Linked DNA regions of Homo sapiens. The protein of the gene in region 1 interacts with the protein of each later gene in a pairwise test. Each region holds a gene or a part of one and is shown on either strand. Other genes may lie near its edges. The genes, in order: TRAF3IP1, MEIS3, EXOC1, CFAP58, IMMT, ANKRD36B and ERV3-1.

Evidence for each region.
Region 2: the proteins of TRAF3IP1 (region 1) and MEIS3 interact in a two-hybrid assay, tested with the Homo sapiens proteins (one large-scale study listed by IntAct).
Region 3: the proteins of TRAF3IP1 (region 1) and EXOC1 interact in a two-hybrid assay, tested with the Homo sapiens proteins (2 studies listed by BioGRID and IntAct).
Region 4: the proteins of TRAF3IP1 (region 1) and CFAP58 interact in a two-hybrid assay, tested with the Homo sapiens proteins (one large-scale study listed by IntAct).
Region 5: the proteins of TRAF3IP1 (region 1) and IMMT interact in a two-hybrid assay, tested with the Homo sapiens proteins (2 studies listed by BioGRID and IntAct).
Region 6: the proteins of TRAF3IP1 (region 1) and ANKRD36B interact in a two-hybrid assay, tested with the Homo sapiens proteins (one large-scale study listed by IntAct).
Region 7: the proteins of TRAF3IP1 (region 1) and ERV3-1 interact in a two-hybrid assay, tested with the Homo sapiens proteins (one large-scale study listed by IntAct).

The regions. Positions count from the first base shown.
Region 1 is NC_000002.12:238,348,018-238,351,517, reverse strand, and holds part of TRAF3IP1 (TRAF3-interacting protein 1), read right to left. Parts: intron 2,755-3,500; coding exon 2,670-2,754; intron 2,194-2,669; coding exon 2,110-2,193; intron 1-2,109.
Region 2 is NC_000019.10:47,402,624-47,406,075, forward strand, and holds the end of MEIS3 (homeobox protein Meis3), read right to left. Parts: exon of another isoform or gene 2,805-3,452; intron 931-2,804; coding exon of another isoform or gene 791-930; 3' UTR 501-790; downstream 1-500. UniProt on the Homo sapiens protein: Transcriptional regulator which directly modulates PDPK1 expression, thus promoting survival of pancreatic beta-cells. Also regulates expression of NDFIP1, BNIP3, and CCNG1.
Region 3 is NC_000004.12:55,870,648-55,874,147, forward strand, and holds part of EXOC1 (exocyst complex component 1), read left to right. Parts: intron 1-30; coding exon 31-258; intron 259-453; coding exon 454-586; intron 587-1,201; coding exon 1,202-1,311; intron 1,312-2,107; coding exon of another isoform or gene 2,108-2,161; intron 2,162-3,500.
Region 4 is NC_000010.11:104,352,465-104,356,632, reverse strand, and holds the start of CFAP58 (cilia- and flagella-associated protein 58), read right to left. Parts: upstream 2,801-4,168; 5' UTR 2,736-2,800; coding exon 2,727-2,735; intron 1-2,726. UniProt on the Homo sapiens protein: Has an essential role in the assembly and organization of the sperm flagellar axoneme. Required for the elongation of the primary cilium and sperm flagellar midpiece via modulation of the Notch signaling pathway.
Region 5 is NC_000002.12:86,164,463-86,167,962, forward strand, and holds part of IMMT (MICOS complex subunit MIC60), read right to left. Parts: intron 2,183-3,500; coding exon 2,046-2,182; intron 1-2,045. UniProt on the Homo sapiens protein: Component of the MICOS complex, a large protein complex of the mitochondrial inner membrane that plays crucial roles in the maintenance of crista junctions, inner membrane architecture, and formation of contact sites to the outer membrane.
Region 6 is NC_000002.12:97,583,378-97,586,877, forward strand, and holds part of ANKRD36B (ankyrin repeat domain-containing protein 36B), read right to left. Parts: intron 2,022-3,500; coding exon 1,907-2,021; intron 1,741-1,906; coding exon 1,567-1,740; coding exon of another isoform or gene 1,561-1,566; exon of another isoform or gene 1,134-1,560; intron 1-1,133.
Region 7 is NC_000007.14:64,996,688-65,000,187, forward strand, and holds part of ERV3-1 (endogenous retrovirus group 3 member 1 Env polyprotein precursor), read right to left. Parts: intron 2,756-3,500; exon of another isoform or gene 2,434-2,755; intron 1-2,433.

The DNA.
Region 1 (3,500 bases):
CCGCCTTGCTCTCCAGGACACAGCTTCCCCACAGCCCTCAGCTGCAGCTGCTGCTCCTCCCACCGGCCTCTTGTCACGGGCCCAGAGGGAAGGTCAGTAATTTCCTTATGCTTGCTTCGGCTTCCAGATCACTCTCCCTAAAAACTGCCAACTTTAAATCTTGTCACCCTCGACCCCATCATTGCTGCCATCAGCTGCCAACCCATGGTCCCACCCAGTCCTCCTGGACCCGCCACTCTCACCAACGGTGCTCCTGTCTTACTTGTGATTTCAAGTATTGAGAAATGATCCTTCCAAAATCCTGGCCTTGGGTCCCTGAACCCTGCTGGGATGATCCCACCTCCCACACTCGACGCCCACTCCCAGGGGCACCCCTGTCACTACCACTAACAGCAAGCTCCAACCTCAAATCCAAGCGCCCCACTCCTTTACCACCACTATCTATATTCCCAGCTCACCGCCCTAGGACCTGACTCCAACAATCCTTCTATCCATCCGGCACCTTCAGCCTCTCAATCCTAATGCCTCCTCCTGACCTTCACCCCGAGGGCTCCTCCCTCACTCACTGGCATAAATCCCACATTGGTCATGACCGTGGCGCTTCCACATACTCCTACTCCTTCCCTTCTCTCTCGGTGCACTTGCTTGGCACAGCCGAGCCCTGTTTAATACAGCCTGTGCCCCCCAGTGCCTGTAGGTGTAGCCAACTGCAGCTGCAGAACAGGCCCCGCCACACCATCTTCTGTCTCTTTACGCCCAAGTCCACCAGATGCTGCCCTGAAGTCAGCTGTCAGCCACGGCCTCCGCCCAGGCACTATGGGCAGGCAGCCCATCCTCCTTTGTGGTGGAGACTGTCCTGTGCATTGTAGGAGGTTCAGCAACTGCCCTGCCCTAACCCCTCCCCTTCATCAGAACACCAGAAAATGTCTCCAGATCATGGCCCAGTGTCCCCAAAGTAGGATCACCCCTAGAGGAAAACCTCTGCTCCAGTCTCTTCACTAGCCCACTCTCGTGCACAGCGACTTCACCCAGCCCCTCTCTCCTCTGACACTCCTCTTCCCCCAGACCCTCTTACGGCTCATGAGAAAAATAAGTACCAGAAAATCACCTTAAGAATCTGCATCACACCATGTGCCGACTCCACCTCCGCGCCCGTTCCCACACCCACACGGGGACTCTGCTCCACCAAACCCCTGTCCCACGTCGCCTACGTCATCAATTTCCCCTTTCCACTGGATCATTCCCGTCATTAGAAAAATAATAACTCCCCTTGACACCACCTTTCCCACTTTCTAGTCTTATTCCTTCCCTTCTCTTTGTGGCAAAACTCCTAGAAAAACACATCTACTCCTGCCTCCAATCCCTGCCTCTTATTTGATCTGAAACCCACTCTGATCCATCCTATCTGTTGTTTGTCTTTATATTGCTTATGACTTTATTTTTTTTTTTGAGATAGTCTCACTCTGTCGCCCAGGCTGGAGTACAGCAGTGCAATCTCAGCTCATTATAACCTCCACCTCCCAGGTTCAAGTGATTCTTCTGCCTCAGCCTCCTGAGTAGCTGGGACTACAGGCACACGCCACCACGCCCAGCTAACTTTTGTATTTTTAGTAGAGACGGGGGTTTCACCACATTGGCCAGGCTGGTCTCAAACTCCTGACCTCAAGCCATCCGCCCGCCTCGGCCTCCCAAAATGTTGGGATTACAGGCGTGAACCACCAGGCCCAGCCTGCTTATAACATTTTGATCACCTTCTATTTTTAATTTTTCTGCAATTAAGCCCCTAATTTTTTTCCCCTATTTTTTCCTAATTCCCCTATTGTTTTCACGCTTAGAAAGTCTTCAATCTAGGGGTCAGAGAAATGCAGTCCAACATTTTCCCATAGATGTGAAGATGTATTTTACATGTATGCATGGTTTTTCTCTTTCATCCATCTGACATGTCTGTTGGCCTATGGTGTGAGGCGAGGGCCTACCCTCACTTTTTGTTCCTCAATAGCATGTTTCCAGCACCATGTGCTGCTTCCCTCCCCCTTCTCTTAGCGGAGGCACCATGCCCACTGGAGAACACACTGTGTGGCTGGAACTGCCCTGCTGAGCCAGCCTTACCTATCCATTTGTAGCGCCTCCATGCTGTCTTGCCGTTTGACCCGGGGAGGGGCTGGTCTTGCACTCCCAGGCCGAGGAATTCTTCTAAACCCAAATATTGGAAAACCAAAAAAGGAGTATGAAAGGCTTATACATTTCAAACTGGAAAAGAAAGCCCAGGTGAATGTTAACTCTCATCTCCAAGCCATAATCAATGTGCTGGTTAGGACACGCTACTCTGCAGAAGAGGAGGAACGTCCCAGTAACCCGACCAATCAGAAAGTGTCCATCTTTCCACTTGTATTTTCAGTAATTTCAAAATACCAACAACTGTCACTAATCAAAACATCACATAATTCAGCTATAATTTTGAATTCCCCTAAATCTCCAAAATATTATATCACTATATAGTGATATAACTCCAGTACAGAAAACTGATATACTTCTTGTATTCTTTGTATAAGTAATTCCTCATAAGTTAGCTCAAGCACTAAATAAATAGCAGCAGCCAGAAAGAGAAGCACAGCAGTGTCCTAGGTGTGATCACTCTGCTGAGGGAAAGGGATTCAAAGCACACAGACCTGATGTTGGATGAAAGCTCATTAGGAATTTCTGGAGTCTCTGGCACCTCAGACTTATCTTGGCCAGCAGGTCCAGCATCTCCTTCTAAACAAATGACAATCAATTAGCAATTCACAAAGGAAAACACACATAGATAACTATTTGAAAATACTATTTGCATCTGTATTTGCAGTTATTTGCAATCAAATACATTTGTAATTGCAAATACAAATGAGCAATTTTTCCATCAATCATGTTGATGAAGAGAAAATCGATGTCTGATATCTAAACTCAGTGAAGATTTGGGAAAATGGGCACACTCAAACCCAGGGAATACAAACTGGTTCAACTACTTCAGAAATAAAATTCAAAAGGCAGGCTGATCAACTGAGCACTTAAAGGAAATACAACCCAAGAGGAGAAATGGACACATGTCAAGATGTTCACCCATCGTCACTGGTAATACTGACAATCAATCAGTAACTAAGTAAATTATGGTACAGTCACATGTCAGCTCCCTTTTGTGTGAAACAATCCAGTACAGTAATATATCTAACAATTATATACATATGCATATATATATATACAGGGTTCTAGAAGAATATTCATTTAAGTTATAAGCAGTAGAATTACCAGTGCTTTTAATTTTTGTTCTTTTTTTTTTGCATTTTTAAATTTTTCTACATTGGTATACCATATTATGTTTATAATCTGAACAAAGTTTTCTTCATTTTGATAAAAAGAATTAATCAGTAAATAACAAGGCCTAAACTATTAAGACAAGTTTACTCCACTATTTAAAGTAAAAGGAATTAACACTTCAGAAAATAGTCAGAATTTGAATATTAGAA
Region 2 (3,452 bases), on another chromosome or scaffold:
CGGAAGCCTTGGAAGTGAGGGTGTGCCTGCCTAACCTGCTCATTTCCCATGGGACAGAGGACGTGATTGGACAGCCACAGCTGGTGAAGTGACGCAGGCGTGGCCCTGAGTCTTCATTCTCCCCTGCACACACATCTCTTGCAGGAATTCTGCAGCTCCCTCTAGTTAAGAGGTGGAGTCTTGGCCAGGCCTGGTGGCTCGTTTGTAATCCCAGCACTCTGGGAGGCTCCCAAGTAGCTGAAACTGCAGGCGTGCACCACCATGCCCAAGCAATTCGTTTGCTTGCTTCGTAGAGATGGGGTCTCACTATGTTGCCAGGCTGGTCTTGAACTCCTGGCCTTAAGTGATCCACTCGCCTTGGCCTCCCAAAGGGTTGGGATTATAGGCGTGAGCCATCGTGCTTGCAGCCGGCCAATCAGTATTCTTATTCGTGATTTACGAGCTTCAAATTGGTAAGAATTTGAAATCTTGGGATAGACACAAGAACTCCAGTTGGTGGCTCCGTGTTTTTAAGACTTTATCATTAAAAAAAAGAAGAAATTAGAGAAGGGAGGTAGGGGGGACAGGAGAGTGAAGGAATCTCTCCAAAATGTCGGATCCGGGCGACCCTCCTTCCCTGACTGCCCAGCCACCCCGTCCCTTCTCTGTCCTGGCGGCGAGGCCCTAGCCGCCATCTTCTGGGGACCAAGGCCCAGGAGCCCAGCTCGGGTCCCAGGCAGAGGTGAAGGCAGAAGTGGGGCTCAGGGCCTGGAGGCCTTGCCGGTGTCCTTGAGAGCCCTTGGATGGGCACTCAGGCCCCCATGTCCCAGCAGGGCCCTAGGGAGGTAGGCATTGAGCAGAGGGGCCTTTGGAGGTGGGGTCCTGAAGCTGGAGGACCAGGCGGGAACCAGAGGCAGGTGTGAGGCTGGGGGTCACAGCCGGAGGCTGGGTCTGTGGAGAGGGGAGGAGAGGCCAAGTCAGGAGCGGGCAGGGGGCCTGGCCCCACCCCAGCCCATCTGTGCAGGCCTCATCAGCCCCAATGTGAGGGGGACACAGAGAGAGTGGCTGGCGGGGAATGGCACAGGGATGTGGGAGGGTCACAGAGAGAAGAGACGCAGTGACGAGAAAGAGGGAGACAGAGAATCAGAGTGGAGGTGAGGGAGGGAGAGACCTACAGACAGAGACAGAGAACAAGGAGAGAGACAGGCAGAGTAGGACAGAGACAGACCTGGAGGGAGTCAGAGAGAACGACATGGGAAGAGAGAGAAGAAGTCATGAAGAAATAGACGAAATGGAGAGAGAGAAAGAGAGACAGGAGGCTGGGCGCGGTGACTCATGCCTGTAACCCCAACACTTTGGGAGGCAGAGGCAGGGGGATCGCTTGAGCCCAGGAGTTCGAGACCAGCCTGGGGAACAAAGCGAGACCCGTCTCTACAAAAATAAAAATAAAAATTAGCCAGGTATGGTGGCGCACGCCTGTAGTCTCAGCCACTTGGGAGGCTGAGGCCAGAGGATCGCTTAACCTGGGGAGGTCGAGGCTACAGTGAGCCATGATCAGGAGTGGAGAGACAGAAAAGGAGACAGAAAGGAGCAGAGAAAAGAGCCCACTGGGCAGCCAGGCAGTGGGATGAGAAGACCCCTCCATCACTACTGACCCCAAAGGTCCCCTGACACTCACCCCAGACCATCCCTACCCACACTTGGCCATGAAAGAGCTGAGTCGCCCACTGCCCTACCTGGCCTGGATACGCCTGCCCATCTCTCTCCCAGGCTCGGCCTCCAGCACCCGCCTCCATGCATAAGCCCTGTGCAGGCCTCCACTCTCATCCCCAGGGCTTTTCTGCTGGCCCTGAATTCATTAGCCACCTGTCCGGCCGCCTGCCTCAACCCAGTCCAAAGAGAACTTCCTCCTTGTGTGTAGGGGGCTGGGGCTGTCTCACAGCCACGAGATTTCCAAGCTCTCCTGGCCTTGGCACGTGCTATTCCCTCTGCAGATGCTCCTCTCCTGCTTCACTCCTCCCATTCTGCTGGTCTCACCTCCAAAGTCCTCTCCTCCAGGCAGCCCTCCTTGAATCCTCTAGTCTGGGTCAGATGCCCCCTCCTCCAGGAAGCCCTCTCTAAACACCTCCCCCCATCCCAGGTCCAACACCCGCCCCCTGTGAGCTCCTCCAGTTCCTTGGCTTCACCATCCCAGCCCTGCCCGTTCTGGGGCATCACCATCTGGGGATGGGTCTGTCCCCTTCACTAGACTTTGTGCCCCATGAGGGCAGGGCTGAGGCTGTCATGGTCACTGTTGTGTCCCCAACATTACCCAGCACAGGGCTGGGCACAGAGGGGCTCAGGGGATGGATGGACAGATGGATGCTAAACTAAGGAGTTAGGACTTTGTCCAGATGGCACTAGGGAGCCACAAATGGTTTAATCCAGAGAGAGTCAAACTCTGATCTGGGCTTTGGAAACTCTAGGCTGCCTCCCTACCCTGGGCCTTTGCACATGCTGTTCCCTCTGCTTTTGTGAGCAGGGTAGACCTGTGCAAGTGACCTCTTCTCTCTGAACCTCAGTCTTCTTATCTATGAAATTAAAATTGTTAATAGTCTCCCCTTTCGGGATCGTTGTAAGGACTAAATGAGAAGATGCTCTAAAGTGCCGCCATCATACCAGGCCACAGAAGACTCAAGGCCTGGGAAAGTCAAATAATGCCCCCCTTCCACATTACTCCCTACTCTGCCCAGTGGACTCCTATTCATCCTTCAGTGCCCCATCCAGAGGCCACTTCCTCTAGGAAATCTTCCCTGATACCCCAGAGATAGCTGATGACTCCCTCCTATGGGGAAACTACGTTTTATTGTTTGAACTGTTACACTGGATTGTCACTGGGGTTGCCAACTTCCCCACAAGACCAGAATCTTCTCAAGATCCAGACCCTACCTGAGGCATGTCAGGATGGAGTGAGGGCTCAATTTTTTTTTTTTTTTTTTTTTAGATGGAGTCTCACTTTATTGCCCAGGTTGATCTTGGCTCACTGTAACCTCCGCCTCCTGGGTTCAAGTGATTCTCCTGCCTCAGCCTCCAGAGTAGCTGGGACTATGGGTACATGCCACCACACCTGGCTAATTTTTGTATTTTTAGTAGAGACAGGGTTTTACCATGTTGGCCAGGCTGGTCTCGAACTTCTGACCTCAGGTGATCCACCTGCCTCAGCCTCCTAAAGTGCTGGGATTACAGGCGTGAGCTACCGTGCCCAGCCAAGGGCTCAGTTTATGTTTGGAGATGTATCATAGATGAATGGGTGTATGTAGGTATGGATGGATGGATGGATAGTGGGTGGTGGGTGGGTGGATATATGGATAATGGGATGTGTGGGTGGATGGATGGGTGAGTTGATGGGTAGGTGGGTGGAAGCCTGGGTAGGGAGGTGGGTGAATGCACAGATAAATGGGTAGATGTGTGGGTGGTTGGTCAGTGTGGAGGTA
Region 3 (3,500 bases), on another chromosome or scaffold:
GTTTGTTTGTTTTGGTCTTTAACTTTGTAGGCTAACATCCAGTCAATCATGGCATCTGAAAAACAAGTCAACATCCTGATGAAATTGCTAGATGAGGCTCTAAAGGAGGTAGATCAGATTGAATTGAAACTGAGCAGTTATGAGGAAATGCTCCAAAGTGTAAAAGAACAAATGGATCAGATCTCTGAAAGCAACCACCTAATTCATCTTAGTAACACTAATAATGTAAAACTCCTATCTGAGATAGAGTTCCTTGTGGTAAGTATGATCATAAATTACCAACAAAAAAAAACTAGTGATGATATATAAAACCCATTTGTAAACATTTTTTAATTTCCTTGTGAGAACAGGATTTAAAATAATTCCAAAGACCTAATGATAGGACTGAATAGCATCTTGCCTGTAAATTTCCCAAAATTACACATGCAAATGGTGTGTTTGCATATATTCTAGAACCACATGGACTTGGCCAAAGGTCATATAAAGGCCCTTCAGGAAGGAGATCTTGCTTCTTCCAGAGGCATTGAGGCCTGCACCAATGCTGCTGATGCCCTTCTGCAGTGCATGAATGTAGCTCTTCGACCAGGTATGTTCATTAGAAATGACAAAAATGTGACCAAGAATGTGAGACTAAGCCTGTAACTTGTTATAAAGGTTTTGACAAGAAATACATGAGACAAGTGGTTTAAGGGTTACATTATTAGCTATTCAAGTTTCACTGATTTCCCAACTTATTTCTATTGATACTAGGAACTTTTTTACTTCAGTTCCTCCTTCTAATTGTCCTCAATGACTATAGTCAACACCATGATCTTTATTTAGTACTATCCACAGAACCCAGCAGAAAGTAGGTGCTTTGGTTAGACGAGAGCAATTATTTCAAAACTTGAGTGTCCGTCAGAATCCCTAGAGGTCTTGTTAAAAACATAGATTGCCTGGCCCCAGTCCCAGATTCAGCAGATCTGGGCTGAGATTTTAGAATCCACATTTCTAACAGTTCCCAGGCGATGGTGAGGCAAGACCACACTTTGAGAACTACTGTGAAATCCCATTTTTCTCCTGCTTAACTTTTATCATGTAAATGAATACACCCATAAAACTTTTGGGTTCTTCAAAACGTTAGATACGTTTAATGTTCCATTAAACATCAAGGAAATCTTTTTACCCATTAAACTGGTCACAAAATGTCGTTCTGTGTCAGGCCATGACTTGCTTCTGGCAGTCAAACAGCAACAGCAGCGATTCAGTGATTTGCGAGAGCTTTTTGCCCGGAGACTGGCCAGTCACCTCAACAATGTTTTTGTTCAACAGGTAATTTTATTTTATTATTAAAACGAGCATGTTCCTATAGCTTATTTATGTATTAACCTTACATTTCCACAAAAATGTTAATATGTTTAATTGGGGTTGCAGTCAATTCCTTCACATATTTGATTTTAAGATTTTGAAATAGGAGCCTCTTTGCTCATAGATGTACTTTGGGCCTCAGCTGCCTCTTTTGGTAGACAGTCTAGTTCCTTTCAGCTGATGCTCTCTGATTCTAGAAATCAAATAACTATGCATATGAATTGCATATACTACTTAGATATTTTTATTTATAAAGTAAGTCCAAACTTGTTAGATATTTACTATTGGACCTGTTTTATTTTTCAGTATTTTGAGGTGAGACTCAGGACTTGATTCAGTGTTTTAAATGTTTTGTAAGTTCTATGTACTTAGTACATAGTATAATTGTTAAGAAAATGACTAGCTCAACTGCAAATTTCAGTTGATCTAATCTTCATATAAATGCTTTACCTATATTTTTATATGGAAAAGGATGTTATAATTAAGAGTGTGGTAATAATATTGTTATTAATAATATTAAGAGTACCTTTGAGGGATTTGAATAAAAGCCATTTTAATATCTAATACAATAAATTAGGTTTCTTATTTTTTCATCTCTTTTAAAAGTCCCTTTTATTTTATTAGAGTTATAGAATGAAAAAAAATTGGGGGAATATCTCGTTCATCAAGAAATACTGCCTGAAAACAATGGATTTTTACTTTATTTTCACTTTGCAATATTCTAAAACAATTGTATTTACTATATTTTATTTCCAATTAGTTTACTCAGGCCCTCCTTCAACTCTATAACAGGTCCTACTTTCTTTCGGTTCCTGTGAGTACATCAAATTTGGCTCAAGCTTCTCTGATTCTGTTTTTTTTTTTCTATAAAGTTTGCTAAACTTAACAGCAGCCGAATCTTTACAGATTATAACTTACTGATTTAAGCTACCTGTTAACCACATTCGTAGCAGTTTTTAAATGTCCCATAGTAGAGACTATTTTGGCCAAAAAAGCATTTAATCTCATTCTGCTTGCTTTTCTTTCTGTCATTTTTTCACTCCATTTAGTAATAAATAGTAATATTACTCCTTCATTTAGTAATAGTAGTAATATTAATCCTTCATTTATTTAGTATTGCCAGGTGATTGAGGTACATACCAGACATTAACTTGGGATAAATGAGAGACCAATCCTGTCCTCTAGTAGTTCACAGTCTAGGGAAGCGAGACAAACAAATAATATACTCAAGAGGGATAAATGTTATGACAGCGAGACTGTGGGAGTGTAAAGGAAGACCACCTAACTAAAAGCACGGTAGGGGGGAATCAGAGAGATTCCCTTAACATTCCACTTGACTGAAAAGTGTCGAGAAAAAAGTAAGCTTAAATGTCACATAGGAAATACTAATTCATGTTTTTGTTAGGTACTTACTTCAATAACATCTATTTCTATACAATTCCTTAGTTTTTAAAAATGACACTGTTGACAATTATGTTATCCACATTTGTTAGATAGTATTGAAAATACCAGCCAGTAAACAATAGTCTTTTCTGTACCCTTAACTGTTTGTTGTAACATGCAGTTATTTATGATTTTGCTTCTTGCCTTGTAAACTAATGGCCTCGTTTAAAATGAATGCTTCCCATTTCTGAAAAGCTGATATGTGTTATTACATGTGAGTGATGCATGTTAAAAATCAGAACGCTGCGACAACCTGGGGTGTGCCAAAAACGGTGGAAGAAGATATCCCACACATAAGAAAGATTTTCTTAGTGTTGCATTCAGTGCATCAGGTCACCTAGCAAAATTGTTGAGAAACATGGGTATTTCTATTCCTGGTAGGGAGACAAGCTGGGAAAATTGATTAAAATAATATGGTACACCTCTTTGGCAATCACAGAATTTTCATTGTATGCTTATTATGTACTCACTGTCTACCATATATAAGAATAAGCAATAGTTCCTACCCTCAAGATGCTTGTAAGAAGGAATTAAAACTAATGTACTTACTCTTTGTAAGGAGTTAAGACTAATGTACATTAGCAATGTATGTAATAAATTGCTAATTGTAGAACTGTGGACTGTAAGTGCTAAAAAGGTTTAATCAAAAGTGAGTTTATTGAGAATTTAAGGAGTGAGATATGGAAGGAATTGCAGATAAGGTAGGACTT
Region 4 (4,168 bases), on another chromosome or scaffold:
AGGGAGTGAGGGACACACAGTGAAGACACTGAATTACATTCAAAGGAGTACGGATTGCATTATTCTGCAGGCCACAGGGAACCACTCAAGACTTTTGAGCAAAGGACTCATAAGGCTTGCAAGGCCTTACTTACGTTTGCAACATTATGTTTTAATATTCTACTCTACAAAGGGCCTTGGCATCAACACTCTCTTGCTAAAAGAAACCAACTGAAACAATCTGTAGTCCCAATAATAAAGTAAAATTTCAATTCACCCTGAAGATTTTAAGGAGTCTAGTTTACCTTCTGTTTTGACAAGCCCGTCTTGCCCAATATGGAAAAAGTCTACGTATTCTTGGTTTTCGAAAACACTTGTACTATTAATTAAATCTCTAACGATGACATGCAAGCAAAACAGTCTTTGTAAATTAAAATAAATGTAGAGTCACAAGCATATCTATAGCATTTTGTATAACAACTTTAGTACTAATTTTAAATTCACATAGGTTTTTCTTCCTGACTAAAAGCAGATTATTGCAAAGACCACAATGTAGTAATTCCACAAAGGAGGAAAAACCATATTAAGGAAATACGGTGTTGCTGCTGTTCTGTTCTTCTCCCTTGTTGATGCTAAACATAAGCACACACAAAAATTTGTCACTGCACTGTTCTTGGTTCCATCCCTGTAAATGGTATTAACGTCAACACTTGATCAACAGCCTAATGATTTGTTAGCAGTCCAAGTTTTACCTGTTTACCTGGCACTTAGCACAGGAATGGAAAAATACCAAAGAAGGAAAAGTTTTAAAGAAACTTTTAGGAACAAAAGAGATTTGTTCCTATTGTCATTAAAAGCAAAGGAAAAATAATCTCTTAGCTTTGGCCAATAAACAGTTGATATTTCCACTGTTATAACATATAATGGTATCTGTTTCAGAAGGATGAAATCAACGTGAACTGATCAGAAAGGAACTGTGGCATTTCTTTATTCTTCACCTATTCACTGATTGTTTGCTATGTGCCAGGCACTGTCCTGTCCTAAGTTCTGGGAATATCAATTAGTGGGGAGAAGGAAAAGGGAAAAGGAAAAGAGAACTGCAATATAAGATGAGGCCAGAGGGGAAATAGAGAATTGTGAAAGCAGAATCGAGAAAGTTGGCTGAGGTCAAGTAAGAAGAAAAGTAGAAGAAAGGAAGAAACGAGAGGAGTAACAGAAAGAGGGAAATGGAAATAACTAATCCATAATAGTGGAGCAGCTTCTGAGGCCGGCACCTGGGCAGGGTTCCTCACAGAAATATGCAAATATATCCTGAATAGGGCAGAGCCAAGGAAATGAGGGGCTGGTGCCTCTGGGAGGCTGGGGCTTCCCTATGGGGAATGAAGAATGAAATAAACAAAGATGACTGGTGGGAGAAAAGAGGAGAAAACACTCAAAAGCAATAATGGGACAATAAAGAACTAGAAGGAACAAGAAAGGAAATGGGAAGAAAGAGATACAAATGACTATGGGTAATGGGGAGAAGTGAAGTGGCCACAGCAGCATGGATGTCAGAGAGAGATGTGAGTGATGGAGCCCAGGCGTGAGGAAGATGGATGATATGAAAGAGATCGTATGATAAGGAAAGGAAGGAGGTGTTGACCACGGGAAGACGGAATTTATAAAGCTAGACTGGAGATGGAGGAAAAGCAATGATGAGGGGATGTGAATGGTGCAGAGGAAGCAAGAGAGTAACTAGAATGGGGTGGGGAGGGGGTGGAGCACGATGGTGCTGAAAGATGATGGGGCTTGGGCTGGCTTCATGGGAGTGAAAACTGGTCAGTTGCACAGGGCCCCTTGCTCAGAAAGGCCCCATTCTTGGTTGAATGCTCTGCTGTTCTGTCTTAAAATTATTTGTAATTTTTGAAGAGACTTTGTGTTTTCACTTTGCATCAGGCCTTGCAAATCATGTAGCTGGTCCTGGCTGGAACAGACCGTGGGATGGGTGATGGGGGAAGGGCTCTGATGGGGCCATGAAGGATTTGGGTAGGGCCATAGTGGATGGGGACTGTGAATGGCAAGTAATGACAGGGACCCGAGGCTCTTGAGGTTATACGTGAGGGGGCTAAGGGGCAGGCAGGGAGTCACTGAAGGGTTGCAGAAATAACCCCTCATTGGAGAGGCTGAAAATGGGGTGTACTGTAATATGGGGGAGTGGTGGGGTGATACGAGATGTTAACACAGGAGTCAATGAACACACGGGGCAGAGGTGATGGGCAGAAGAGCCTTAATGAAGCTGTGTGACAGCAGGTGATCACATGTTAGGAAATCAGGGTGTGACAGGTGGACAAGGGCCATTGATTGGGATGACAGCAGGCATCTGTGAAGCTTTCTTCCCGGTTTCCCCTGTGAGATAAGACATCTCCAATATTTCTGTGTGAGCCTCTCTTATGGTATCACTCCATGACTAAAAATCTAGGGCTGGGTGCATGTCACGTGTGGATTTCAGAATTCATTAATTTTCTACCGCACTTAGCATAGCGCCGATGCCACAGTGGGGATAGTGGGGTGTCCACACAAATGAAGGAGAAACAGGAGGTAAAGAGGCCAGAGCCAACGGAGAAAGGCGCGGGAGTGAGTGAGGGTGCAGGGGAATAAGATGTTGATGGGGGGAAATATTGGAATCACCGTTTGTGACAATCGTCAGTAGGAGAGGGACAATGGGGAGGGGTCAAGGGAAAGGCGACAGAGGGGCGCTGACTCCTGACCTCAGCCATCCTGATGCTCTCTGGGGGCGGCCTCAGAGGCTGCTGTGGAGATCGCAGGAGCTGGGCCGGAGTCTGGGAAAGAAGCTAAAGGCGCGACGCGCTGTCTCTATCGCCCGCCCCGAGCGGAAACCCGCGCTCGGCGCGTCGGCCCGTCGCCTGGCAACGGACACGCCCTCTAGGGGCGCTAGCGGGAATTCGAAAGGGGAGGAGCTTCTGCGGCTGGCACCTGGGCAGGGTTCCTCAGAGAAATATGCAAATATATCCCAATGGGGCGGAGCCAAGGAAGTGAGGGGGCGGTGCCCCTGAGAGGCTGGGAGGAGTCCCACGGTGTGGGCAGATGGAGACACCCAGGAGAAAGAAGAGGGCGAATTGGAAGAGGCCACCCAGAAAGGACGGTGTGTGACACTAGGGAGCCAAGCATGGAGAGCCGAGGACTAACGCTTGGAAGGAAATGTGGACCAGAAGGTTCCGGATGAGGGAAGGACTGGCGGCTACACTCTGCCTTCCGAGACAACGAGGAATAATCTCACTTCAGTCAGTTCAACCCTTGTAAAACAGCTACTGTGTGCAAGACACGGAGGGAAAGCTGAAGTAGAGAAACCACAGACGCTGTCTTCAAAGGGTTTAATCTAATATTAGTGATGAGAAAAATAGGGTGCAGAGCTTAAGGCATCCTGGAAAAACGTATGTAGCGCCACATCGCGAAAATCTCTCTTCTGGGACCCCTCTCCCAAAAACGTTTCTTCGCCCTCTTCTCCCCCTTCTGCCTCCACTCTTTCTGGACTTCAGGTACAAATAGTTGAAATAATTATACTCCTTGGTTCATGAAATGTGTAAGACTCCTCTCTGGTTTTATTTTCCCCCTTTATCCCCATCCCTACTCCCAACCCCTATCCTCAACCCCATAGGCATTCATGCTGCTGTGCTTCCATATGTATTTTTGGGAAATGTACAAAATTTTTATCAGTGTATTTTTTAAAAATGTTTAAATAATGCTACTGGACTTTGGAGATTATCTTATTTTCTACTTTTTTCACTCAACATTCTTTTTAAGGATCTGTCCTCGTTGCGATTGGCAAGCATATAGTTCATTGCTTCTGAGTACTGCACAGCGTTTCATAAGGGGCATCTACCACACTTCACTTCCATTCCCCAGGTGTTAGGTAACAAGGCCGCCTCTAATTCTCCAATACATCAAGTAATACAGCCATGATCGTCTTTGTCCGTGGTCCCTTAAGGACCTCTGTGCAAATTCCTCTGAAATATATGCCAAGGAGTAAGATTGTTAAAGTTATAGGGATGCACAGGGACATTTGCTTATGCAGCTGCGTCCTGCACAAACACATCCAGCCATGGGGCAATGGAGGCTGAAAAACTGTCTCTACTCTCTTTCCCGTGCCATGTGCCCTACTGGAGAAAGGTGTGCACTTTTTATTCTCACA
Region 5 (3,500 bases), about 150 Mb from region 1:
GGTAGATCACTTGAGGTCATGAGTTCGAGACCAGCCTGGCCAACATAGTGAAACCCTCTCTGTACGAAAAATACAAAAATTAGCCAGGTGTGGTGGTGGGCACCTGTAATTTCAGCTACTTGAGAGGCTAAGGCAGGAGAATTGCTTGAACCTGGGAGGCAGAGGTTGCAGTGAGCAGAGATCACGCCACTGCACTACAGCCTGGTGACAGAGCAAGACTCTGTCTCAAAAAAAAAAAAAAAGGAATGGATGCTGAGTTGGGCCACATGAACTGACCCAAATAGAATTACAAAGCATGTAAATGTCAATGACATATCTGGGGGCCAAAATTTATCACCCTTGTTGAAGGTACTCCTGCTTACAGAAGTCCAAGGAAAACCTACCCTGTAACAGACACAGATTCCCCTACAACCAAACTAAATCCTAGTATTACCAAATCCAACTCTTCACAAACACTGCTTTGTGAAAGTTATTCAGTATATATTAGAAATTACATGTGCACCTGTAGCTTCTTGTACTAGAAAAAACAAAAGCTGGAATTCATTCTTAACATTCCAAAATGTGTTCATACATTTTTCCAATTATTTTGTACATTAGCTAATACTCTCATCTGTTAACTGCTACCATTAGATTGTAAAATCTTGACTGCAATAGATTTTACACTGTCTAATCACCATGTGCTACACATTATGTGCGTTAGGAAGATGAAATACCACCTTGTGTACCCTTATACCCAAGTAGTAACATGGCATTTAAAGCTTCCAATCCGTGTCCTTCTGAGGGATACTGGTCTACTTGGGTTTGAACCCAACACCCTTACATCACGCAACTTCTAGCCTTCCCATATCGGTAACCAGCAAATTAAATTTCCTGGGTGGTTTCCACTTTGCTGACTGAACTCTGATATTTAAGTATTTTTCTTGGACTTTGAATAAAATGGAATTTTCCTTAAAATTTCAAAGGTTGTAGTTTCTTGCTACTAACATCAGAGGTCTAATTAAACTCTTTTGTAATATAAGTACATACGACTGAAACAATGTAAAGTGTGTGTAAAATTTTTTTTAAAACTACAATTATGATGGCAAAGTAACTTTACTGACCATGTATGATCCTGATCCTTAAGATTAATAATTTATGCATTTTACTTTAATTTACTCCTTAAATGACTTGGAATAGAGATACATTTATACATACTGAATAACTTAATGTAATTATAAAATAATGTATTAAGTCCCAGTATTAAATTTTGAAAAATCAATGTTATTACTTCATTCTTTGAAGTGTTTCGCATAAATAATCATAAACATTTAAAATAGCAGGTGTTTCAGGGAACATGAGAGCTCTCTGTATTATTTCTTAAAACTGCATGTGAAGTTTGAGAAGTATCTTAAAAAGTTTACCTATGGAAATAGCAATTTTAAAGCAAACAACAAAAATATTTAAGTGCTATTAAAATATGAAAGCAAATCTGAACTAATTCTTGCGCTGCATCGGTGTTGTAAGATATAGTAAAGCACAATGTATAAAATTCATTCTAAAAAACTTAAAGGCTTTTTTCAGTTTGTTTTTTAAACATAATTACTCTAAGGCCAAGCACAGTGGCTCACGCCTGTAATCCCAACATTTTGGGAGGCCGAGGCAGGCAAATCACTTGAGGTCAAGAGTTCCAGTCCAGCCTGGCCAAAATGGCAAACCCTGTCTCTACTAAAAGTACAAAAATTAGCCGGGTATGGTGGCGGGAGCCTGTAATCCCAGCTACTCGGGAGGCTGAGGCAGGAGAATCGCTTGAACCTGGGAGGTGGAGGTTGCAATGAGCCGAGATCGCACCACTGGACTCCAGCCCGGGCGACAGAGCAAGACTCCGTCTCAAAACAATAACAAAAAAAGATTAATTATTCCAGACTATCTTCCCCTAGTGAGAGAAAGCCGATATCATACGGAAGAAAGCAGTCTGTTAAATATTACACTTCTCTCCACCCTCGATTTTTCTTTTTGTCCTCCAAGTCATGACAGCCAGAACACTTCTAATCATTCATTGGGCTCACCTCAGAATTGTCCATGGCGGCTTTCAATATGTTGGAGTGTGCATTGACAGCCTGGACCGCAGCATTCTGAGCTGCAATAGCCTGCAGAGTGACACTTGCAGTTTGCCTCAGAGCATCTTCTAAGCTCTTGGCTAGAGCTTAAAAAAAAAAAAGAACAGTTAAAAAACAAATCCTACCCCCATAAATGACTTTAAACTTTTGCTGTTCTCCTATCTAGTCTTCCATTGCATTTCCCAAAAAATTTAAAAAGGAACAAAATACATGAGACTCAAATTTAGGGAATCAAAGTTTCACTTAAAAGTATGGTAAAGGCCGGGCGCAGTGGCTCATGCCTGTAATCCCAGCACTTTGGGAGGCCGAGGCGGGCGTATCACAAGGTCAGGAGTTTGAGACCAACCTGACCAATGTGGTGAAACCCCGTCTCTACTAAAAATACAAAAATTAGCCAGGCATGGTGGCGGGTGCCTGTAGTTCCAGCTACCTGGGAGGCTGAGGCAGGAGAATCGCTTGAACCTGGGAGGTGGAGCTTGCAGTGAGCCGAGATCATGCCACTGCACTCTAGCCTGGGCGACAGAGCGAGACTCTCTCAAAAAAAAAAAAGAAAACATGGTAAAATACTGATAATTTAGTCTGGATGATAAATCTATGAAGCTTTATTACACTTCTTTTTTTTTTTTTTTTTGAGACAGAGTCTCGCTCTGTCGCCCAGGCTGGAGTGCAGTGGCGCGATCTCGGCTCACTGCAAGCTCCGCCTCCCGGGTTCACGCCATTCTCCTACCTCAGCCTCCCGAGTAGCTGGGACTACAGGTGCATACCACCACGCCCAGCTAATTTTTTTGTATTTCTTAGTAGAGACGGGGTTTCACCATGTTAGCCAGGATAGTCTCCATCTACTGACCCCATGATCCGCCCACCCTGGACTCCCAAAGTGCTGGGATTACAGGCGTGAGCCACCGTGCCCGGTTTTTTGTTTTTTGTTTTTTTTTTTTTTTTTGGAGACGGAGTCCCACTCTATCGCCCAGGCTAGAGTGCAGTGGCACCGTCTCAGTTCACTGCAACCTCCGCCTCCTGGGTTCAGGCGATTCTCCTGCCTCAGCCTCCTGAGTAGCTGGGACTACAGGTGCCTGCCACCACGCTCAGCTAATATTTTGTATTTTTAGCAGACAGGGTTTCACCGTGTTAGCCAGGATGGTCTCGATCTCCTGACCTCGTGATCCATCCACCTCAGCCTCTCAAAGTGCTGGGATTACAGGCGTGAGCCACCGTGCCCAGCCTACTTTTTCTTTTCTGTATATCTAAACTTTTTCAAAATAAAAAGTGTTTTTTTTTTTCAAAATTATTTAAAGAAGGGTAATGTATTTCAAATGGGAGAAACAAGGTTTAGGACACTATAGCCCCTTTTACATATTGTGGCTATAAACTCAACAAATCCATCAGCTTTCTTCATTTTAAACA
Region 6 (3,500 bases), about 140 Mb from region 1:
AAAGAAAAGGTGTTATTCTTATGCTGATAGATACTGCAAATAATAGTCCTTTCCACTTCCCAACCACAGAGGTAGAGACAGGTAAAAGTCAGGCCAATATTATTGGAAAGGAGAAATTTAAAGGAAGCAGCACCTATCTCCAGCTCTTCTAGAGATTTTTTGTGTGTTTGAGATATGGGAATTTATATTACACTTATCTATTCAGTGGTTCTTAACCAGCAGCGTATCAGTGTCCCAAGAAATGTTTTATTGTTGTTGTTGTTGTTGTGTTGTTGCTGTTAGAGGCAGTGTCTTAATCTGTTGCTCTGGCTAGAGGCACCACCATGCCCAGCTTCAAGGAAATATTTTAAAACATACATGCCCAGTAATATTTAATAGTAAATATTAGATTTACTATATTAAAATCTTCAGGGGATATCCTAGACTTAGAGATTTGCTTTTAATTTCCCCAGGTTACTGCCATGCACAATTCTAACTGCGAACCAGCACAGTTGATAATCACTTCAGTCTCATTTCTCACCCACGTGGCAAATTCCCTTTATCGTTTGGGATTTGGCCGAAAAGAGGAAAGAGCAAAAGATAGAGCCATTCACTGAAGACTTCATTTACTTTTCCTGGGTAGGGGTAGGGAAGAGACTAGTAAGCTCAAAATCCAACTTGATTTTACTATTTATAAGCTCCGTATCTCCCACCTGCCCATCAAGACATTCTGGACTTGAGAGTAGAGTTTAGATGCTTATCTGAGTGGCTGTTTCTGCCAGAATTGAATAATGTCCATTAATTATGTGTTCTTCTCTCTGCTGAACTGTGTGCCGCTTCATCACCACTATTCACTGCCAACCTGGTTTCCTCAGAGTCTTACCAAAATTGATCCCTGGGCAATTTCACAACTCACAAACTCTTTCCCAAAGTAAGAATAATCATCCCCAAAACTGAAGCGATCTTTGTCTAAACATATAAATTGAAAACAAACAACAAAACACACAAAAACCCTCTCCACAGTATTTTCCCTCATTACCTAATTTCCAAATTAGCTTGTGCATTTCTGATTGCTCTCCTTTTCTTCATTTTTCCCTCTTAAGCCTTTCCACAGAGGAATCACTTTCAAATGAAATCACCTTCACATACAACACTTGTCAACAGCAACAACATGTACATTTATTGTGAAATTCTTTAATTTTCTTTGACATTTAAAATAAAGCCTATTTATAAGGGACAATTTTACTTTCCTGTGTCACTTCACACTGATTAGAAAAAAAGTAATTTAGTGGAAAAACACTTAACTATTACCTTTCCCAAATTCAGTTGTCATGAATTATAAATTTATTGTAATTCATTTGTTTTTATAGTTATTTACCATAAGTGCATGAAAAAAGGCTGTTCCCTATAATGCTTCTTTAAAAGTTCCAATATTTAAAGTAAAATCTTAGACAGTTAAGGCATTTCAAAATATTTTCATTCAAGGAATGTTTGAGCTTCCAAATATGAAAAATTGACCCTTACATGTGTCAATGTTAAAATAAATGCATTTCAGATAGTTTGAAAATAACATTGGTTGACCTATACCTTGCTGCATTCTTCAATATTTGTACCATGTGAAAGAAGTTTTTCTATCATGGATGTATCTTCATTATACACAGCGTAGTGCAGAGCAGTCCTTCCAAAGACATCCGTAATATTTGGATCGGCGCCATTTTGCAGCAGAAGAGTTGCACAAGCCTCCTGCCTCAGTTGTACAGCCTGTCAGTATTAGACCGAGAAACATGCAAATACTGAAAAAATCAAAATAAACACTCCGTAGGATTTCCTACTAGTTATATGGTGGTATTCCAATGAGATAAATTCATTTTATCCTATGTACTTCAACCAAATCCATCTCATGCTCAAAGAGTCAGCTACTATGTACCTTGATCAGAGGTGTCCTGTCTTCACGGTCGCAGAGGTTAAGCTCACATCTTCTGGACACCAGGAGATGTACCATTTCCGGTTGGCCAGTGGCACAGGCCAAATGTAGGGCAGTCCTGTGAGAGTGACAGGACTTTTTAAAACATGTAACTGTAAGCATTAATTAGCATGTTATTTCTCTGTCTTCAAAACAAATATGTAATTTTCTTGTGAAGAAAGTACAACATTTGTTAGCGCTTATTACTCACCACATTAATGAAAGAGCAGGCTATTTAATAGAAAAGGCTTGGCTTTTGGATTCAGTTTAATTGGGGCTTAAAATTTACTGTAAGCTCTGTCACTTAGCTGTTATTTAGCCTTTCTTTGCTTCAATTTCCTTATCAATAAAATATGTAAGAGAATAGTAGCTAGCCCACAGAACACTGCTGTGATGCTTACATAAGAATCTATGCACAGCATTTAGAACACTTTCTAACACAAATAACAGCTCAATAATTTTTAGATATCACTACTTACAAAGACAAAGACATTTTAATTAAGTAAAATGATACAATCATATCTACATTGAGGTATCTATTAAAGATTAGATGTATCATTGTATTTCAGTCATTCTCAGATGCTCATTTTCTCACTATTCTCTTATATAAGCTACTATTCTCTTATATATTAACATCTCCTGACATTGGAAAACTGTTTACAATTCATTATTTATTACATTTATAACTGGCAACATTTTAAACATTATCTTATCGATATATAAAGTAATGTGGCATCACCCAATCCGTGATGCCTTACATTAAGTGGGATACAGTTCATAGAACAGGCAGTTCTATTCATATAATTGGCACCTAAATGAAGTACTGTGGAAAAAGAAGGCAAAAATAAAAAAACAAATTTTTAAAACAAAGTAATTCTTACTTCAACTTTCAAAAAAAAATAATCCAAAGAAAACTCAGGATTCAAATGAATAGGTATGGCTCATTTTTTTCAATACTTACAGAATGTTATGTAAATTAGGTATTTGCAATGATTAATAGTAGTATTTGAGACTGTCATAAGTTTTTGAAATGGCAGTTAAAGGTTATCTTTCACTATTTTCTAACTTCAGAATTGCTTTTGTTTAAAAAAAAAAAAAGGAATAAAAGATCCAACTGGGATTCAGTCCTAATGCTTCCATTTTAAATCTCAGCTTGCTCAGGCTGGGCAGGTAAACATGAAGTTGTTAAGGGTGGAAGAGTCCTGAGAGATGGTGGAATGTGTCTGCTACATAATAGGTATTCAGGTTATGCTTGATGAATAACTGGATTGAAAGAATGCATACATACAGTTGGGAAGTTTATTGTGAAAAAAACTATAAATTAAAGCAGTGCTTTTGGAATAGTGATAATCACTTATATTTGCTCATTTTCATTTTCATGAGGACACTGATAAACTAAAATAATTAATTTAAAATTGTTTCCTTATATGTAATAAAACTATAATAAAAACTTATGTATATACTAAAATCTATGCATAATAAAATAATCAAGCACAAATAAAAATATTCCCTCTGCCTCTGAAGAGGCTAAAAGTTCACAGAAGATACCAATAAACAA
Region 7 (3,500 bases), on another chromosome or scaffold:
TCCTCCAAAGACACACCTCCTTGGCTGACAAAATGGCCTCTTCTCTGGGACCCCTGTAGCCCCAACAATAGTTGTATGATCTTTGGATGATGGCCCTATGGGCTGGGTCACTACCAAGTGTTCAGCCCCAGTGTCTACCATAAAGTTCATTAGCTGGCCTCCTACTTCTAATGTGACCATGGGCTCCTGGGGGGCTAAAGAGAAGGAGCCCAGTCTGGCCTAATCTTCATATTCTCCAGTTCCTGCCAGCCTGATCAAGTAGGTATCTGACTCCCTTGGGACACAATAGCCCTTGGCTGGCAGTTTTCCAGTTTTATAGTCTCTGTCATTTTCTTCATTGCCCTCTGGACATTCACCTTTCCAGTGTCCCCTCTTTTTGCATTGCGCACATTGATTCCTACATAGTCTTGGTTGACTTTCAGGTCTCTGCCTGGCCTGAACCCCTCCATGTCCATGGCTATGTCCACACCCACTCGCGATGCTAGTTTCCCTTCCTGTGAGGACTGCCACTAGCAGATCGGCCTTTTTCTTAAGTCTGATCAGCCTCTCTTTGTCTCCTGGTTACGGTTAACATACACCTTGGTGGCCACTTCTAAAAGCTGAGTGGCATTCATGCCCGTGAAACACTCTAGCTTTTGCAGCTTTCGCCTGATGTCTCCCTGGGCCTGTCCTACAAACTCTGCGTTCACCATGCACTGGTTCTCAGTAGCCTCAGTGTCAAACGGGGTGTAAAGCTAGAATGCTTTACAGAGTCTCTCATAAAACTGACCAGGACTTTAATTAGTCTCCTGCAGCACTTCCAAGATTTTCCCCGTGTTGACTGCCTTTTTCCCACCTTCCTTTAGCCCTTGCAGGAGTGCCTCCCAGTACCTCTGTAGGTACTGTAATTGGGCTGCATCATTTGGGTCCCAGTGTAGGCTGGCTTCTGGGAATTGGCCCTGAGCATATATGCCTGGACATTAAGTGTGCCTTCTGGTGCATTGTGTTCCAGCCAGTGGAGGGCTGCCTGGGTCACCCTTCGGCATTCCTCGGTGTTAAACAGTGTCAGGAGGAGCTGTTTGCAATCTGGCCACGTTGGATTTTGTGTCTGAAAAATGGACTGCATCAGATCTGTGAGGGCTTGGGGCTTCTCTGTGTAGGAGGGAGTAGGGAGTATGGTGTTTCCAGTTTAGGAGATCAGTGGTTGAAAAAGGCTGGTAAATAAAAGTCGGTTGCCCCCCCTTGAACCTGCCCCTGTTCATCATAATAGATAGGTCCCCGTGTTTCACGGAGGGGCATCTGCCACACTCTGGTGTGGCCAGGTCGAAGGCGGCCTGCTTGATCATCCTGACTTTCCTTCTTGACCTCCTGAGGTGGGGGCTCAGATTTCCCCCTTTGAGGTGTAGCCTGGAGTGTGTCACCATCTGAGTCTGGCTGCTCAGGGGCCGTCCTTGGTAAAGGGGGATAGATTGGCACATAGGGAGGAGGGGTTTCTATCTCCTCTGCTGGTTCCTGCAAAACTGGTTTTTCTTGTGGCTTTCCTTTTGTCTCTGTAGCTGACAGTGAAGCTGATTTTTCTTTTACTTTAGGCTTGGCTCGAGCTATGAGCGTTTTGCAATAAGAAGCCAGGCAAGGCTGCAGCCATGCAGGTTGAGTTTGAACTATATTTAGCCATGAGTCAATATAAGGAAATTGGTCTGGATGCCCTGGCTGTCCTCCGACCCCAGTCACCACCTTAAATACACGGCCAATTTTTTCCCTATCTATAGTTCCTTCGGCCAGCCATCCAACATTGAAAGAGGGCCATTCTATTTCACAGAGAGTTCTCAACCTCTGGGGGGTCAACTTGATCTCATAATCCCCTGTATAATCTTACTTAAAGTTCCTTAACATACATTCTAATGGGATGGGTTTTGATGACTTCCCTCCCATTTCCTCCCAGTTATGGCAGAACCCACTCACTCTTCCTTTCATTTCAGACTGATTAGACCGTGTCCCTTGCAGGAGTATTTCAGACACTTCTTAGATTTAATGGAGGGTTCATATGAGTCCTGAACCCGGACCACCACAATCTATAAGTTGTGGGGCACCTCCCTAAGCCATATGCCGTAGCCCCAAAGGATGTTTGCCACTAGTCTCGGTCGGTTCCACACTTCACTCAGATGGTACAGTCTATGCTAAGAGACCTGTGGCTCCACACACGTCACTCAGCATGTTGGTTCCTTTTGGAACCATCTCTTTCACATTTATTCACACACCTCCCCACTTCCAGTTTCCTTTCTTAACCAACTTAGTGAGCCACTCTCACGTCCTGGGTCAGTTGGGGTGTAGGTTTCTTCCAACTTTGCGAGCCCCTCTCATGTCCTGAGTCGGATTACTAGGTACACCCCAGGAGGTGATCAGGCTCCCCTTCCATCCTTATGGGACGGGTCCTGCCTTGGGCCCAAACCTTACTGCAGTCCTGTAGCGTGAAGTCCTGGAATCGTCCTGTAGCCCCTTAGGTTCCAATGCACTGTCAGGGAGGGGCGCCGGGTCATGGGAGAGCCAATCTCCCCTCCGGGTTGAAGGTCTCCCAATGGTGCCTTGGGTCACGGGTCTCCCCCAGCCCGGGGCTCCAGTCCCACAGCCAAAGGAGACAGTAAACCTGTAGTCTCCCCTCCTGGCTGGCTCGCCAAAATGTTGTGGGAATCAGGAGGCTGGAGAGACCACTTGGTGGAACAGGAGGATTTTATTTAGGTGACCACCAGCCCAGCCGATGAACATCCAAAGGCTGAGCCCTGAACAATGACAGGGCTTGACTTTTATACATGCAACCAACAGGGGCGGGTCAGGTTTTTGGCATGAAACCTGTGAGACAGGAAAGCAGTCTTACAGAAGCAGAACAAAGACAGTTAATCATACCGTGACAGGTTTTACAACAGGATTTGCAACATGACCCTATCTTACTTAAGCATGTCTTGTGACCTTGCCGTGCTACAGAAAGAAAAACAGGAACTTATGAAATCTTTGCAAACTTGCAGAAATAGTTACAAAAATAGTTGTGAGAGCAGAACAAAGAATAATGGTATGGGGAAAGAATTTCAAGGCGGAAACTGATAAGGAGAACTTGTTTTTCTCATCTCTGCTCCTGGAGCCCATTCTTTTGGGGTCCCTGCCTGGCCTTGCAGATAATGTTATCATAGCTCCAGCAGGACTTTGGAGTGAGTCAGACTGATCAGGGAAGGACTTGTTTTCCCTTTACTTGTTTTTCCTTTTATATTTCCTGCCTCATATACACTGCCTGTAGGAGTATAACTTAATTCAACCATTGTGAAAAGAATTGTGGCAATGACAGAACTAAAAACAGAATTACCATTTGACCCAGGCACCTCATAATTGGGTTTATACCCCAAAAAATATAAATTATTCTATCATAAAGATACAAAGACATGCATGTTCACTGCAGCACTACTCACAATAGAAAAGACATGGAATCACCATAAACACCTATCAATGGCAGACTGGATAAAGAAAGTATGGTA